Linked DNA regions of Homo sapiens. The protein of the gene in region 2 purifies or fractionates together with the protein of the main gene of each other region. This does not show direct contact. Each region holds a gene or a part of one and is shown on either strand. Other genes may lie near its edges.

The links. The genes of interacting proteins can lie anywhere in the genome.
Region 1: the proteins of NFX1 (region 2) and GFRAL purify together in Homo sapiens (affinity purification with mass spectrometry, with the first as the bait; one large-scale study listed by BioGRID). This does not show direct contact.
Region 3: the proteins of NFX1 (region 2) and YTHDF2 purify together in Homo sapiens (affinity purification with mass spectrometry, with the first as the bait; one large-scale study listed by BioGRID). This does not show direct contact.
Region 4: the proteins of NFX1 (region 2) and DNMT1 purify together in Homo sapiens (affinity purification with mass spectrometry, with the first as the bait; one large-scale study listed by BioGRID). This does not show direct contact.

What each region holds. Positions count from the first base shown.
Region 1 is NC_000006.12:55,330,469-55,333,968, forward strand, and holds part of GFRAL (GDNF family receptor alpha-like precursor), read left to right. Parts: intron 1-1,246; coding exon 1,247-1,381; intron 1,382-3,317; coding exon 3,318-3,476; intron 3,477-3,500. UniProt on the Homo sapiens protein: Brainstem-restricted receptor for GDF15 hormone, which triggers an aversive response, characterized by nausea, vomiting, and/or loss of appetite in response to various stresses.
Region 2 is NC_000009.12:33,363,516-33,367,015, reverse strand, and holds part of NFX1 (transcriptional repressor NF-X1), read right to left. Parts: intron 3,007-3,500; coding exon 2,908-3,006; intron 2,309-2,907; coding exon 2,242-2,308; intron 388-2,241; coding exon 242-387; intron 1-241. UniProt on the Homo sapiens protein: Binds to the X-box motif of MHC class II genes and represses their expression. May play an important role in regulating the duration of an inflammatory response by limiting the period in which MHC class II molecules are induced by interferon-gamma.
Region 3 is NC_000001.11:28,735,674-28,739,739, reverse strand, and holds the start of YTHDF2 (YTH domain-containing family protein 2), read right to left. Parts: upstream 2,801-4,066; 5' UTR 2,620-2,800; coding exon 2,593-2,619; intron 2,083-2,592; coding exon 2,058-2,082; intron 1,482-2,057; coding exon 1,402-1,481; intron 1-1,401. UniProt on the Homo sapiens protein: Specifically recognizes and binds N6-methyladenosine (m6A)-containing RNAs, and regulates their stability. M6A is a modification present at internal sites of mRNAs and some non-coding RNAs and plays a role in mRNA stability and processing.
Region 4 is NC_000019.10:10,153,454-10,156,953, reverse strand, and holds part of DNMT1 (DNA (cytosine-5)-methyltransferase 1), read left to right. Parts: intron 1-444; coding exon 445-563; intron 564-1,008; coding exon 1,009-1,101; intron 1,102-1,897; coding exon 1,898-2,049; intron 2,050-2,180; coding exon 2,181-2,368; intron 2,369-2,474; coding exon 2,475-2,661; intron 2,662-3,500. UniProt on the Homo sapiens protein: Methylates CpG residues. Preferentially methylates hemimethylated DNA. Associates with DNA replication sites in S phase maintaining the methylation pattern in the newly synthesized strand, that is essential for epigenetic inheritance.

The sequences.
Region 1 (3,500 bases), on a different chromosome or scaffold from region 2:
AATTTGAGTGTGGAAAAAGGGGAGTATAGAATTCAAGTAAAGTTTCCAGAAAATAGCTAATGATTGTGTTCAGTTTTAAACAACAAAAAGGGTTATTCCAGAAGAAAAAGAAAGAAAATACTTATCAGGGATCAGACAGTAGGTATGCAGAGGTAGAAGACAGCATGGATCATTCGGGAAACGATAAATGCTTGAGACCTTCCAGATTGCACATGGTGAGGAATATGAGAGCCCTGATATGAGAAATAGTTTAAAGGATATAAAACAGAAAAATGGCAAGACTAGAATAGTACATCAGGTAGATTAGGGGTTACAAAGAACCTATCTGAATAAGGTTCTGAATAAGATTCAAACTGGAGGCAGACTGACTAATAAGTTAAACAAATGCTCAAAGTGAAAGTCAATAAATTTAGCAAGAATGAATATGGGAGAGTGAAGTTGAGGATGGAAAATAGTCTACCACAAAACCAAGATTTCTAGTTTGAGTTCTCATGTTAATTGTGGCATTGTGAATGAAGTAGTGGTCCACAGTGGAACAATGATGATGAAGATCCTGTGAAAGTGTTTCTGAAACATTCAAGTAGAGATAACAATTACGTACCTATGACAGGAACGCTGGAAATACTGAGATTAAATTATACATTTGAGAATCATCAGACTAACATTTTAGTTCAAACCATAAGAGTACATGGAATTTTCTGCAGAGAATGTATAAAATGAAAATAGAAAAGGTCTGAGAAGAGAACCTAAGCTAAAATTATACTTTACTAGAAGAATAAAATGATCCTGGGAATAATTTTAGCTATGGTCAGAAAATACAAAGTGGATAAATATCAAGAGAACAGAAGGGAGGGCTGGCAAAGGAAGAGTTTCAAAAACAAAAAAGTCAACAAAATGGTCAATGGTGAGATAAAGTTTAAAACCATTAAGTTAGATTTTAAAGGGGTAATTAGAGACTTTTTTAAGAGCAGTTTTAATGGAATAATAGTAATAAAAATAAATTATAAGTTGAGGAATAAATAGATGATGAGACGTCAAAATGAGCAAATTTAAAATATTCATTTAAGAATCTATAAAAAGAAATACAGATCTACAGCTAGAGAGGAGGTTAAGGTTATTCCCACCATCAATTATTTCACTACATGTTATTTTCCATAATTCTGCTCTTTATCATTAATAACTTAGATTTGAAGAAAATGGATGCCAAATTTATATTACAACCTTGTTTTTGTTGTTGTTATTCAAGCTATGGGGTTAAGCTTGGAAAATGAATACACTTCCCAAACCAATAATTGCACATATTTAAGAGAGCAATGCTTACGTGATGCAAATGGATGTAAACATGCTTGGAGAGTAATGGAAGATGCCTGCAATGATTCAGGTAAACAAGTTGCTAAAAATACACTCAAATGATTTATTTTTACTAAGATAAAAACAGGATTTGATATTTTGTCATTATCCTAAGAACTAAGTTTTTTTCTATGTATCTTATTTAATCTTGACCCCCATCGATTCACTTTTAATCATGTATTAGCAAATTTAATTACAAAAGGATTTTCTTAATTACTAAAGAGCTTTAATTACTGAGGGCAGCATTATTCAAGATTTCAGATTATTTTCTTACCTCTCTCACCATGTATAATGCTACAATTTTATGCATTCTTCTGAGAACCATGGCACTATTTTTTTTCAAATAAAAGGTTATTTTGATTACATATGTCAATGATAAAATAGAAAAAATAAGATTTGTTATAATAATTGTTGTGCATTTGTCCATGCACAATGTACAATGTATATTCTTGAAACATATATGCGGTATTTCCAATTCTATGTCAAGAACAAGTAAAGCTATAGTTTTGTTTTTAACTTGGCCTACCTTCCAAACATTTGTGGGGAGGTTCAAGAGTTGAGAATGTGAAGATTGGAGAGTGACTGGTATTTTCTTTCTTTTTTCTTTTTTTTTTTATTTTGAGACTGAATCTTGGTCTGTCGCCAGGCTGGAGTGTAGCTGCGTGATCTCGGCTCACTGCAACCTCCGCCTCCCGGGTTCAAACGATTCTTTCTCCTGCCTCAGCCTCCAGAGTAGCTGGGACTACAGGCGCATGCCACCATGCCCAGCTAATTTTTGTATTTTTAGTAGAGACGGGATTTCACCACGTTGGCCAGGATGGTCTCAATTTCTTGGCCTCGTGATCTGCCTGCCTCGGCCTCCCAAAGTGCTGGGATTGCAGGCGTGCACCACCGTGCCTGGCCTATATTTCCTTAAAAAGAAAAAATATATATATTTTGAATATTCAAGTAGCTAAATAAGCATTGAATGAGAACATTATAGTAAGACTCCTTTCATTAAAAGTAAATAGAATAGTATAAACTACAAATAGAATAAAGTAAATAGAATAAGTAAATAGAATAAACTGTCTATGTGGTAGAACATAGTCAATTTATACAGTAGAACATTGTTCTACAGCATAATCTATACAGATTACAGTATAATCTATCTACAGTATAATCTAAAAATAATCTATTTATTTTGATGATTAAACTTCTTGCTACATTTTATAAGGCAATTTAAAATATGTTGTTAAAATATTATATTTAGGTGTCACAAATTGTACCTTATTTAATTTCAGTATACAAATAGTCTTTTGCAGTAAATTGCAATAATATTTGCATAATTATTTTATGTATGAAGCTGAAATATGCGTATTCTCAAATGTACAAATGAAATAAACTAAGGTAGTTTTATTCAGAATAATAAATAAAAGAAAATGTTCAGGTAGAGGATTACATATTTTTAAATTAATGTAGAAAATGAAATATTGGTAATTATGAGACTTATTCAATAATATTTATTGAGTGCTATGTGCCAGGACCACATAATTTTTAATGATAAATTTAGAGCTACCTGCACATATCTTTCTATAGTCTGAGAATGATATGAAAATAAAAGATCAGATTATGACAAAATAGCTAATAAAATAGATAAGCTGACAAAATGCTAAGATTAGAGAGCATTCTGGTCACCTCCTGTAAGAGTAGCCTTATTTTTACTGAAAAGCAAGAAATGATATTCTAAGTAGGAAAAAGCTATTTTGAAATGCAGAAAGTTTTAATATAGAAAGTACATTATGGAAAATATTCAATGAAAATACAGGTTTTTCATAAAATGTCACTTATATGGATATCTTGCAGCAACCCCAGATAATCTTACCATATTAATTAATTATTCAGGTTAATATGTTAAAAGTACTTTGGGGAGGAAGAATCCAAAATTATAATCAGATTAATATCTATAGTGTTATGTGTTTGATTGTGAGATCCAGGTGACCCCTGCAAGATGAGGAATTCATCATACTGTAACCTGAGTATCCAGTACTTAGTGGAAAGCAATTTCCAATTTAAAGAGTGTCTTTGCACTGATGACTTCTATTGTACTGTGAACAAACTGCTTGGAAAAAAATGTATCAATAAATCAGGTAATATTTTGTTTTAAGAAATGT
Region 2 (3,500 bases):
GACTGTAGGCAGATGTGACACTTGTGCATTTTGAGTGCATCTGCCCTGTGGGTCGAGGCATAGGTTTTGCTCTTTGGCTCAGGCCTTTAGATTATCTGGGAAGTGCCAGAGAAGCAGATTTTCCTTCTACTTTTCCAAGAGGGAGAGTGGTAGTAAGAAAGACAAGTATTGACAGACCCTGCTTCTTGGGTCCAGTTTGCCCTGCTTAGGAGTTCTTCCTCTGACGGCGGGATTGACCTACCTGATGGCAGTGACCACCACATTGCGCTTCGGTTCACTGTCATAGCTCACGCTCTCCAGGCCATAAACTTGGGCCAAGTCATGGATGATCCGGCGGTGGTCTCTGTTCATGGGAGGGAAGCTGTGGCTTTTCTTACTATTCTTTCCCTGTATTGAGGGAAAAGATGACTGATTGATCATATCATTCTGAAAACAAAATGCTTACAACTAATCTTACCACACAAGAATTGCAGGGATCAATAAGAGGTGATTTTAGAGGCCCACAGCATAGAGCATTTTACTAACTGCCAAGCAAGCCTGGAGGGGTTTGGGAAGATGGGCACTGATGCACTTCTTTCACCTACTCTGTGAGCCACAACAGTCGCAGCTGGACAGGGTTAGGGACAAAGGGTAAGTGAACTGCGACTTAGGTAGACAGCATAATGGTTCTTCCTGATGGGTTCCATAACTGGGGAGTGGGTGATATTCCCCAAAAATGACTAAAGACTTACAAAACAAGAAAATATTATTTCCTTTAAAAGTATGTTCTACTTTAAAAATCGTGAGTATTCAGATACAGACACACAAGCAGAGAAACACATCTGTTGGGGTTTCTTAATTAGGAGAGGAATAATGCATTCCATTTTCTCCTTCATGTTAATATTCTGCTGGGAAGTGGTAACAGAAGGGAGGAAAGGAGGGGAATGGGAAGAGGGTAAGGAGACTGGGAAGGAAAACCACCAGCATTAGATACAGGGGCTAAAGCAACCATCTTGTCCTTACTCACCGTCCCCCCTGATGGAAGGGGGAGGAAGCCAATGCAGCGCTGGGGGCTTCTGACTAAACTCAAGACTTTTCCACTTAAAGCTACCTCCGTGACATCCCTGGCCGCCTCCAGGACAGGGGTCTCCCTCTTCTGAAGGAGTCTATCCCACTGCTCTCCAGCTGTAGTCATACAACTTTCATCCTTCCCAAAGGGGACATTCCTGCCTTTGGAATTATAAAGAACAGTGGGCTTTCCTAGCATACAATAGCCCTTCAAAGATCTGAGGGGCTAGAGTGTCTTCCTAAGTGTCCCACACAGTCACTCAACTATCACTATTGAGCCCCCTCACCCAGAGTTTCTTCATCCATTCTTAGGCACTTGGCCAGCATCTTTATTTTCTTTTTCTTTCTTTCTTTTTTATTGAGACAGGATCTCAAGCTGGAGATCCAAGCTGGAGTACAGTGACTCAACCTCAGCTTACTGCAGGCTTGACCTCCTGGGCTTAAGCAATCCTCCTGCCTCAGCCCCCTGAGTAGCTGGGATTATGGGTGTGCACCACCACACCTGGCTAATTTTTTATTTTTTGTAGAGACAGGGTTTTGCCACGTTGCCCAGGCTGGTCGTGAACTCCTGGACTCAAGTGATCCGCCTGCTGCCTCAGCCTCCCAAAGCGCTGGGATTACAGGTGTGAGCCACCGTGCCTGGCATTTACTTACAGCTGACTGCAGAGCTTTCTTTCTTTCTTTCTTTCTTTTTGAGACAGAGTTTCACTCTTGTTGCCCAGGCTGGAGTGCAGTGGCAGAATCTCAGCTCACAGCAACCTCTGCCTCCCGGGTTCAAGGAATTCTCCTGCCTAAGCCTTGCAAGTAGCTGGAATAACAGGTGCCCGCCACCACACCCAGCTAATTTTTATATTTTTAGTAGAGACAGGGTTTCGTCATGTTGGCCAAGCTGATCTAGAACTCCTGACCTCAAGTGATCTGCCTGCCTTGGCCTCCCAAAGTGCTGGCATTACAGGCATGAGACACTGTGCCCAGCCGACTGTAGATCTTTTCTGCAGTCAACTGTCCTGAACCAGGACAGGCTTCCACAGATGTTATAATGGCTGTGTTTTGAGAAAGATAAGGATCCTCAAAGAAGTTGTGACTTTTTCCTACAACTACTCTAGGTTGAAAGTGTTTCCAGGACTTGATTGCTTTTTTTTTTTCATCAAGCTGGCCTTAGAGAAATGTCCAGTGGGATGTTTCGACTTCAACCTTATTCACGGCCTCCACGAGGGTTTCCATTTCCTTCTCAACGTCACTGACAAACTTTAAGTCCTTCCTGAAATGAGAAATCACCAGTTAATTTTGTCTGTCCCTGCCCTTCTGAGAACCCCTTTCACCCATCCTCTCCCTGTAAAGCGTAGACAATAGACAATGCTGGCAGTAAAACTGCAGAGATCAGGAATTGTCAGAAAACAGAAGGATGACTGACGGAAGAACAAAAGAGAAAAATATAAGAAATGAGAAGATGAAAGGAGAAGTAGCCACTGAAAGGCCAGGGACTCCAGGAGAAAAATAAGAGCTGTTATAGCTCCAACTGAGAACGCATGTGAATGTGAGACTGGGGTGGACAGAAGTGGAATGAAGCCCAGAGATCCTCCAATTTAGTCTAGTCCAGCCCTTGGGAGGCCCAAACTCTTACCACCACCCCACCCAAACTCTTATCTCAACCCTACCCCAAGTTCAGTTCTTTAAGGGGACAGTTTCGAGAAACCAAGAGAAGGATATTTATTAAACAGCACATAATCTCTTACAATAGATAAACAAACAAACTTGAACTGGCTTAATCACAGGAGGAGTACATATTAGTTATGACATCTCAAAAGACCAAACACCCTGACAAGCCACAATTAAGAAAGCAGGTAACAAGTTACATACCTGGCATCTTCTTTCAAACTATCACTGAATTTTGACCCTGAAGAACGTATATTGAAAGGATCAGAATCCTCACTGATATGAAATGCCTCTGCTAATCTCCTGAAAGAGAGAGAGAGGTATGCAAATAAAAGGAGTGGGAGGGAAACTATCTTGCAGTAACCCCGAGTGCCTACTATATCCTAAATTCTTTACACATTATTTATCTCTATTTTGGTAAACTGGATTATTAAGGAGAGAATAACAACAACTTGGGACATGAGGTGGTATTGTCTTCATAAAAGAAAATAAACAGATCTATAAGGATCTGAGCAAGTCATAGGCTGAACACTGGGGACTTAGATTATTTGGGGAAGAGGAGTTTGGGGGTGTGGGATCACTGAGAATGGTCAATGGGGGATGACTTTCTCTGAGGCTTTGTTTAAAGATAAGGTACATAAAATAGACATACAAATGTTAAAATTAATATAGAAATCTGAAAAGTAAAGAATTCCATTAACATATACACTTCATTTTTATACATTTCTTGGCTGGGTGCGGTGGCTCACACCAGTAATCCTAGGACTCTGGGAGGCCAAGGTAGATGGATCACTTGA
Region 3 (4,066 bases), on a different chromosome or scaffold from region 2:
CCAACGTTATTGATCTTCATTTGTGCTAAACAGTATTTTAACTTTCACTCCATTTTATAAATCCTACACCTCCCTTCGGTGAGAAATAAAGTATTCTCCACAGATGTAGGTGCAGCTCAACTCAAAAATTTCCTGACTCAGCCGGGCATGGTGGCTCACACCTGTAATCCCAACACTTCTGAGAGGTCGAGGAGGGCGGACCTCTTGAGCTCAGGAATTCAAGACCAGATTGGGCAACATAGTGAAACCCCCATCTCTACAAAAAAATTAAAAAAATTAGCCGGGCATGGTGGTCCCAGCTACTTGGGAGGCTGAGGCGGGCAAAATCACCTGGTAGGCAGAGGTTGCAGTGAGCCGAGATTGCACCACTGCACTCCAGCCTGGGTGACAAGAGTTGACACTACGTCTCAAAAAAAAAAAAAAAAAAATTTCCTAACTCCGAAATAGTTCTGATAATCTAAGAACCCATAAACTAGAGAAAAGAAAGACAGCCAGTCCTGCAGCACTGAATGAAGTTCAGGTGACTATTTTTTAGAGACCAGATCTTGTTCTGTCACCAAGGCTGGAGCGCAGTGGCTTTTCACAGGTATGATCGTAGATAGCTCACTGCAGCTTCAAACTTCTGGGCTCAAGAGATCTTCCCGCCTTCAGGTGATTTTACATTAGAACTTTCCCTATCATATGAATCCAAAGTTCTCTGGGGTGAAAATTCAGAATATTTAACACTGTAAGAATCCCTAAATTCTGCACTGCTACATTCTTGGTAAGGAAGAAGACAATTATTCATGCACATGTTACTGCCAGTAGAGTGTTATCAGTATTACGTTCTCAATACAGTATGGTTGCTGATATTACAGAGATGGGAATCTCAACGGCCTAGGACATTTGCAGTTAACTGTTTTATAATACATTAATAGGTATTAAGGAGGTGAACCCTCAGAACATGGGATTTCCTGATAGAGGGCAGAGAAAAAATACAGGTATTAAGAAAGTGAATCCTCGGCTAGGCGTGGTGGCTCACGCCTGTAATCCCAGCACTTTGGGAGGCCAAGGCGGGTGAATCACCTGAGGAGTTCAAGACCAGCCCGGCCAACATGAAACCCCGTCTCTACTAAAAAAATAGAAAAACTAGCTGTGTGCGGTGGTGCACACGTGTAATCCCACCTACTCGGGAGGCTGAGACAGGAGATTCGCTTGAACCCGAGAGGCGGAAGTTGGAGCGAGCCGAAATTGCGCCACTACACCCCAGCCTGGGCGTCAGAGCGAGACTCAGTCTCAAAAAAACAGAAAACAGAAAAAAGAAAAAAAAATGAATCCTCAGAAAATGGGATTTATTGGTAGAAGGCGGAGAAAGAATATACCACACCCTTCGATTAGATATGTAAATAGTTAACTACTCACGGGCCTTGCCTGTGGACTCAAGTAAGGTTCAAAATCATCATCGTTTAATCCATCCTTTTGATGTACAGATCCATTTTGTACTAAAGAAAAAAAAATTCAATTAGGAGTGTCCCAATCCTACAATCTTCCTTTCAAATTAGTTCATATATGCTAACCAGAGAAAAACCTTACTAGTTAACAAAGCACGTAAGATTGAACTTCAAAAGGGTAAGAGATGACAGTGAATGCTGAAGCGACAGTCGCCAGTGAAAATGTCCCCCTCCACCCAGAGCAAGTTGATCTAAAAAGGTCATTTTATTGGCTCCTCTGGATTTCCATTCCCTCCCGCTTCCCCTCCCCCATCACATGAGAGTACTTCCAGAGAGTGATCCACGAGGATGAAAAACAAAGGCCTTCTAAGACCTACAGGAAACTAAGGACCTGGAGCGTTTCAAAACCCAATCCACCCCCACCCTTAATGAATTACTCCTTGTTAGCGAAAAAGCTGTTCGCCAGCTGCAAGAACACACCGAAAGGGTCAAAATACTTAAGTGTGCGGCACCTGCGAACTAAGCGGCTTCCGAAAGGTCCTCCGCCCGGGGCGCTTCCCGGAGACCCCGCCCCCACCGCCCCGCGTCCCCCTCCCGGCTCAGGGCCACCGGCGGAGCGGGACTTACCTTTGTTTCCTTGACCTTTTGGTCTCTGCAGGGGAAGGAAACGTCGCCGAGCAGCAAGTTGTCCAAAGGAGAAATGGAAAAGGAAGAACAAATTAAGGCAGGGCCCGAAGGGAGAATAAAGGAGCAGGCCCGAGGGGAGGCGTCAGGAATGGTAGTGAGGAAGAGGCTGAAAATGGGAGGCGGGGGAAAGCGCCAGGCCCGTGGGGCAGGGGAGAAAACGCGGCAGACGCGCCACCGGCGACGCGAGGAACCCAGGGCTTTAAGGAAGGGGAAGGAAACAAGGAAGGAAAACGAGGCCCGCCGAGAGAAGGGAACGCGGCGCGGCCCGGCCCGTGGGCTCCGAGGCCCGAGGAGAAGCGGGAAGAACAGGCTGAGGGAGAGGCGCCGGGCGCGGCCGGCCTGAGAGGCCCGAAACCTGGCCCGCAAGAGACGACGCCTCGGCTCGGCTCGGCCTGCCCAGGAGCGGCGGGCCCGGGCCTAGTCGGGCTCCTTCTCGCCTCACACAATGGCCGAGGCATGCGGGCCGGGCCTGTACCTGCTCCAAGAGGCTGCTGGCCGACATGGCTCTCAGATCCTCACGGGCGGCGACGGCGGCGAACTCTCCTCAGCGCGGCGGCGGCGGCAGATGAGCCCCGTCTGCGGGAGCAGGCGGAGGCTTTTGTCCCTGACACTCGGGGGCCTCGGCGGACGCAGCGGAGACACAGCGCGCGGCTCAGGCTCCGGCTCCGACTCGGCGACGCTCTAGCCCAAGAGCTCAATGCCCGTCTCTATGCTTTTACGCGCGCGCCCGCCCCCCACCGCCTAAAGCAGAGCGCCGAACAGCGGAGGCGGGCGGCGCGCGCGGCGCGAGCGCTGACTCTCACATTCACTCACCCACGCGGAAGGGGCCCGGCGCGAAGAACCCCGGGAAGGGAGAGGCCGGCCGCTGCGCCCTCTGGCGGATTGGAGGAGCGGAAGCCGTGCTCACGGCCTCCCCGCCCCCACCGCCCCAGGATTAAGGCCTAGGGGGTTTGGGACGACCAGGGTCGCACCACGAGGTTTCGACTAACACCTGGAAAGACTAGCTCTGGCTTCAGAAGAACGACAAAAGCCGGTTTCTCAGTGAGGGAGGGGCCTCCGAAGCCCGCGAGACCTTAAAATGAACCTGCCTTCCAGCTGCAAGTGATACCCCACCCCCATCTGGGAGGTAACCCGACCCCTAGGGAGTCACACAGTCCCCAGGGAAACTTCATGGGGGCCCTGTCCGGGAGTGACCCGCCCCCGCCCCCGCGAGGGGCTTGGTCATCCTCTGTTAGCCGACTACAGAAAGAGTACCCAGAGAGCAAAACACACACCGAAAGAATCCAGTCTCCCGCAAAAGAGATTCACCCCTTAGCATTGCAGGAAGGAGAATCTACAATTTATTTTCGGGGAAATCGCTGGCCCCAAGATAATCTGTTAAATTGTGGACTTTATTTCCAAGAAAAATACACCTCATGCATCTACACAAAACTTTCAAGGAGTCCGGAGAACCTATGAATCTTAAGGACCTCAAGAGGGAAGCAAGGAAATTAACATTATTGAAATACCAGCTGTGGGCCAGGCTTTGTTGTTAGGTATTTTCAAACACATTAAAGTCTTTCGACAACTTCAAAATCGCTATCAGTCTTTCGGTTTTTTACGACTGGAAAAACAGAAAGCTTAAGTAATGTGCCCAAGTTTACAAAACTATTAAATAGCCAGGTGTATCTGACACTAACATAATGGTATCTCTCTACCCCTACGAGACTCTGTATTAGGGAACCAGAATATAGGGGAGATGCAAAGGATGGGCAAAAGTATTTTCAATCAGAAGCAAAGCCAACTCATGCAGGAATATTTGATACTAGGAAAGCCCATCTAATAGCTTTTGTTATTGCAAGTACGTCGTGGTAAACAGGTAACTAATGCACTAATTGTCAACCTCGTACTATCCACACGCTGGATATAGGAGGCTTGGGTGGACTCGGTAAAATAAATAACATGGCATC
Region 4 (3,500 bases), on a different chromosome or scaffold from region 2:
TAATCCAGTGTTCCCGCAACCAAAAAATGAGTGTCGGGGCCAGGCATGGTGGTTCAGCCTGTAATCCCAGCACTTTGGGAGGCTGAGGTGGGTAGATCACTGGAGATAAAGAGTTTGAGACCAGCCTGCTACACATAGTGAAACCCCGTCCCTACTAAAAATACAACAATTAGCCGGGCATGGTGGTTCAGGCCTGTAATCCCAGCTACTCGGGAGGCTGAGGCAGGAGAATTACTTGAACCCGGGAGGTGGAGGCTGCAGTGAGCCAAGATTATGCCATCGCGCTCCAGCCTGAGGGATAGAGCAAGACTCTGTCTCAAAAACAAACAAAAAAAGAGTGTCAGACTTGTACATTCTCTCATTGCCTCGTGCCTGATCTGAAGTCTGCACGAAGACCCGCCTTCACGGCTTAGCTGGTAAGCATGTGCTTTGTTTCCTGTCTAGTGTGTACTGTAAGCACGGTCACCTGTGTCCCATCGACACCGGCCTCATCGAGAAGAATATCGAACTCTTCTTTTCTGGTTCAGCAAAACCAATCTATGATGATGACCCATCTCTTGAAGGTAAGGAATAGTCCGGGATTATGTTTGGGGCACACTTTAAAAACAGCCAGGCAGGGTGGCTCACATCTGTAATCCTAGCACTTTGGGGGTCTGAGGCCAGAGGATCACTTGAGCCCGGGAGTTTGAGACGAGCCTGGACAACATAGCAAGAGCCTGCCTCTATTAAAAAAAAATATATAGCATATATATATAGTATACATATATACTTATATATATGTATAAATAAAAAACATACTTATGAAGCAATAGTCAGCTGGAGTTGCTGCTGCCTCTTAAAGTTAGGGTGTGAGACTTTGTGCCAGGAGCAGCTGTAGGCCAAGTCATTGTGATGACTGAGGAGCACCCGACCTGGCTGATGGGATGTCTGCTGAGTGGGCGCTTAGAGCGCCTCCTGGGTTTGGGATGTGAGTCAGAGCCTTTAGTCCATTTCCTTTTTCTGCTCTAGGTGGTGTTAATGGCAAAAATCTTGGCCCCATAAATGAATGGTGGATCACTGGCTTTGATGGAGGTGAAAAGGCCCTCATCGGCTTCAGCACCTGTAAGTGTGTGGCCCATCATAGGCTGGCCGGGGTCTGAAAGGGGCCTTCATGTTCTCCTTCCTGGGGGCTGACGGGGCTCTGGTGGGAATTCTCAGCAGGCTTGCAGAAGGCCATGTGACTGGGAACCTTAGCAGGTTCAGTTGGGGTAGCCTCTTGTGTTAGTTATGACTGGCTCTGGAACTGACTCTCCAGTTGTAAGAGCAGGTCTTGGCCGGATATGGTGGCTCACACCTGTAATCCCAGCACTTTGGGAGGCCGAGTTGGGGGGATCATTTGAGGCCAGGAATTCGAGACCAGCCTAGCCTGGCCAACATGGTGAAACCCCCTCTCTACCAAAAATACAAAAATTAGCCACGCATGGTGGTGCATACCTGTAATCCCAGCTACTTGGGAGGCTATGGCAGGAGAATCACGTGAACCCAGCAGACAGAGGTTGCAGTGAGCCGAGATCACGCCACTGCCCTCCAGCCTGGGTGACGGAGCAAGACTCTGTCCTCCCCTGAAAAAAAAAAAAGAGCAGGTCTTATTCTTGCAACCCAAACCCAGACTGAATTCCAAACACCAGAGATGAGCTCAATGAAGGCCTACTCAGCTAGTCTTCGCTCTCTGGCTGGCTCAGACAGGCTTCTTCAGAACAAGCCAGCTATGATGTGTTGTGCCCTATGTTTCTGACATTTGGGTACGGGATGACTTTTAGACTGTTGGGTGAGTTTGGTAGACTCCTCCATGCCCTGTGGCCACTGTAGGCGCCATCAGATTCCAGCCCCTTTTCCACACCTCCTCTGTTCACCCCAGCATTTGCCGAATACATTCTGATGGATCCCAGTCCCGAGTATGCGCCCATATTTGGGCTGATGCAGGAGAAGATCTACATCAGCAAGATTGTGGTGGAGTTCCTGCAGAGCAATTCCGACTCGACCTATGAGGACCTGATCAACAAGATCGAGGTAAGAGATCGAGGGTCCTCAGCATCCGGGATTCCCACTGGAAACTTGCCTTCAGAACCAGCAGACACTGTTCTTCAGTTGGATTTAGGCCAGTTTGGCTTAAGCATGAGAGAAACCTGTTCTCTTTCAAGACCACGGTTCCTCCTTCTGGCCTCAACTTGAACCGCTTCACAGAGGACTCCCTCCTGCGACACGCGCAGTTTGTGGTGGAGCAGGTGGAGAGTTATGACGAGGCCGGGGACAGTGATGAGCAGCCCATCTTCCTGACACCCTGCATGCGGGACCTGATCAAGCTGGCTGGGGTCACGCTGGGACAGAGGTAAGGATGCGGCAGGGACCAGAGTGAAGACTGGAGACCGGGGAGGGTAGAGCATGGCCCACATCCTCTGTCCCAGTCCTCTGAGATGCTGGAACCTCTCCCGTAGGCGAGCCCAGGCGAGGCGGCAGACCATCAGGCATTCTACCAGGGAGAAGGACAGGGGACCCACGAAAGCCACCACCACCAAGCTGGTCTACCAGATCTTCGATACTTTCTTCGCAGAGCAAATTGAAAAGGATGACAGAGAAGACAAGGAGAACGCCTTTAAGCGCCGGCGATGTGGCGTCTGTGAGGTAACCTCACCTGTGGGTGCTCCCGCTCCCCTAAGGTGGCCCAGCCTCTGGCCTGATCTGAGGACTGCTCCATCTTTCTCTCTGTGGCTTGAGACTCTGGCTGCTCAAATGTGACCCCTGAGACAGAAATTAGTTAGTGGTCTGGGAGGACCCTGCATACTTCATTGAACGTCAATAGGACAGATGTCCACAGAGGCATGCTTGGGTGCTTTGCTGATAATGCCACTGTCCTTAATTGAAGAGCCTGGCTTCTGGGTGGCTCTGCTGTGCCTGCATCTCACAGTCTGAAGGCCCCTGTTGGACTGCTAAAGGGGTATTCACATCTAAGTGGGCACTTTGTCCAGCTTAGATTTGAGGCCCTCAGGAGGCGTCCCTTTCTGTGAGTTTTTAAAATATATGTTTACTTCACTCAGGAGGAACTAACTTCCTAGTCCTATGACCCAAAGACCAGGACTATTTTGATACCTATTACCTGACTTTCTTTTGGATAAAGACTGGCTTCAGGGCTTTGCTTTTGATCCCCGCTGGCATCTCTTAACAGGAGCCTGCATGTCCTCACCATTGTTATTTTGGTTTTATTTTATTTTTCTTGGTTAACACACGTGTGTCCAATGTTTTATAACTTCTAAAATCTTTTTTTTTTTTTTTTAATTTTTTTGAGACAGTCTCTCTCTGTCACCCAGGCTAGAGTGCAGTGGCACCATCTCAGCTCACCGTAACCTCCGCCTCCCGGGTTCAATCAGTTCTCCCACCTCAGCCTCCCGAGTGGCTGGGATTATAGGCACCCGCCACCATACCCGGCTAATTTTTTTTGTATTTTTAGTAGAGATGGGGTTTCA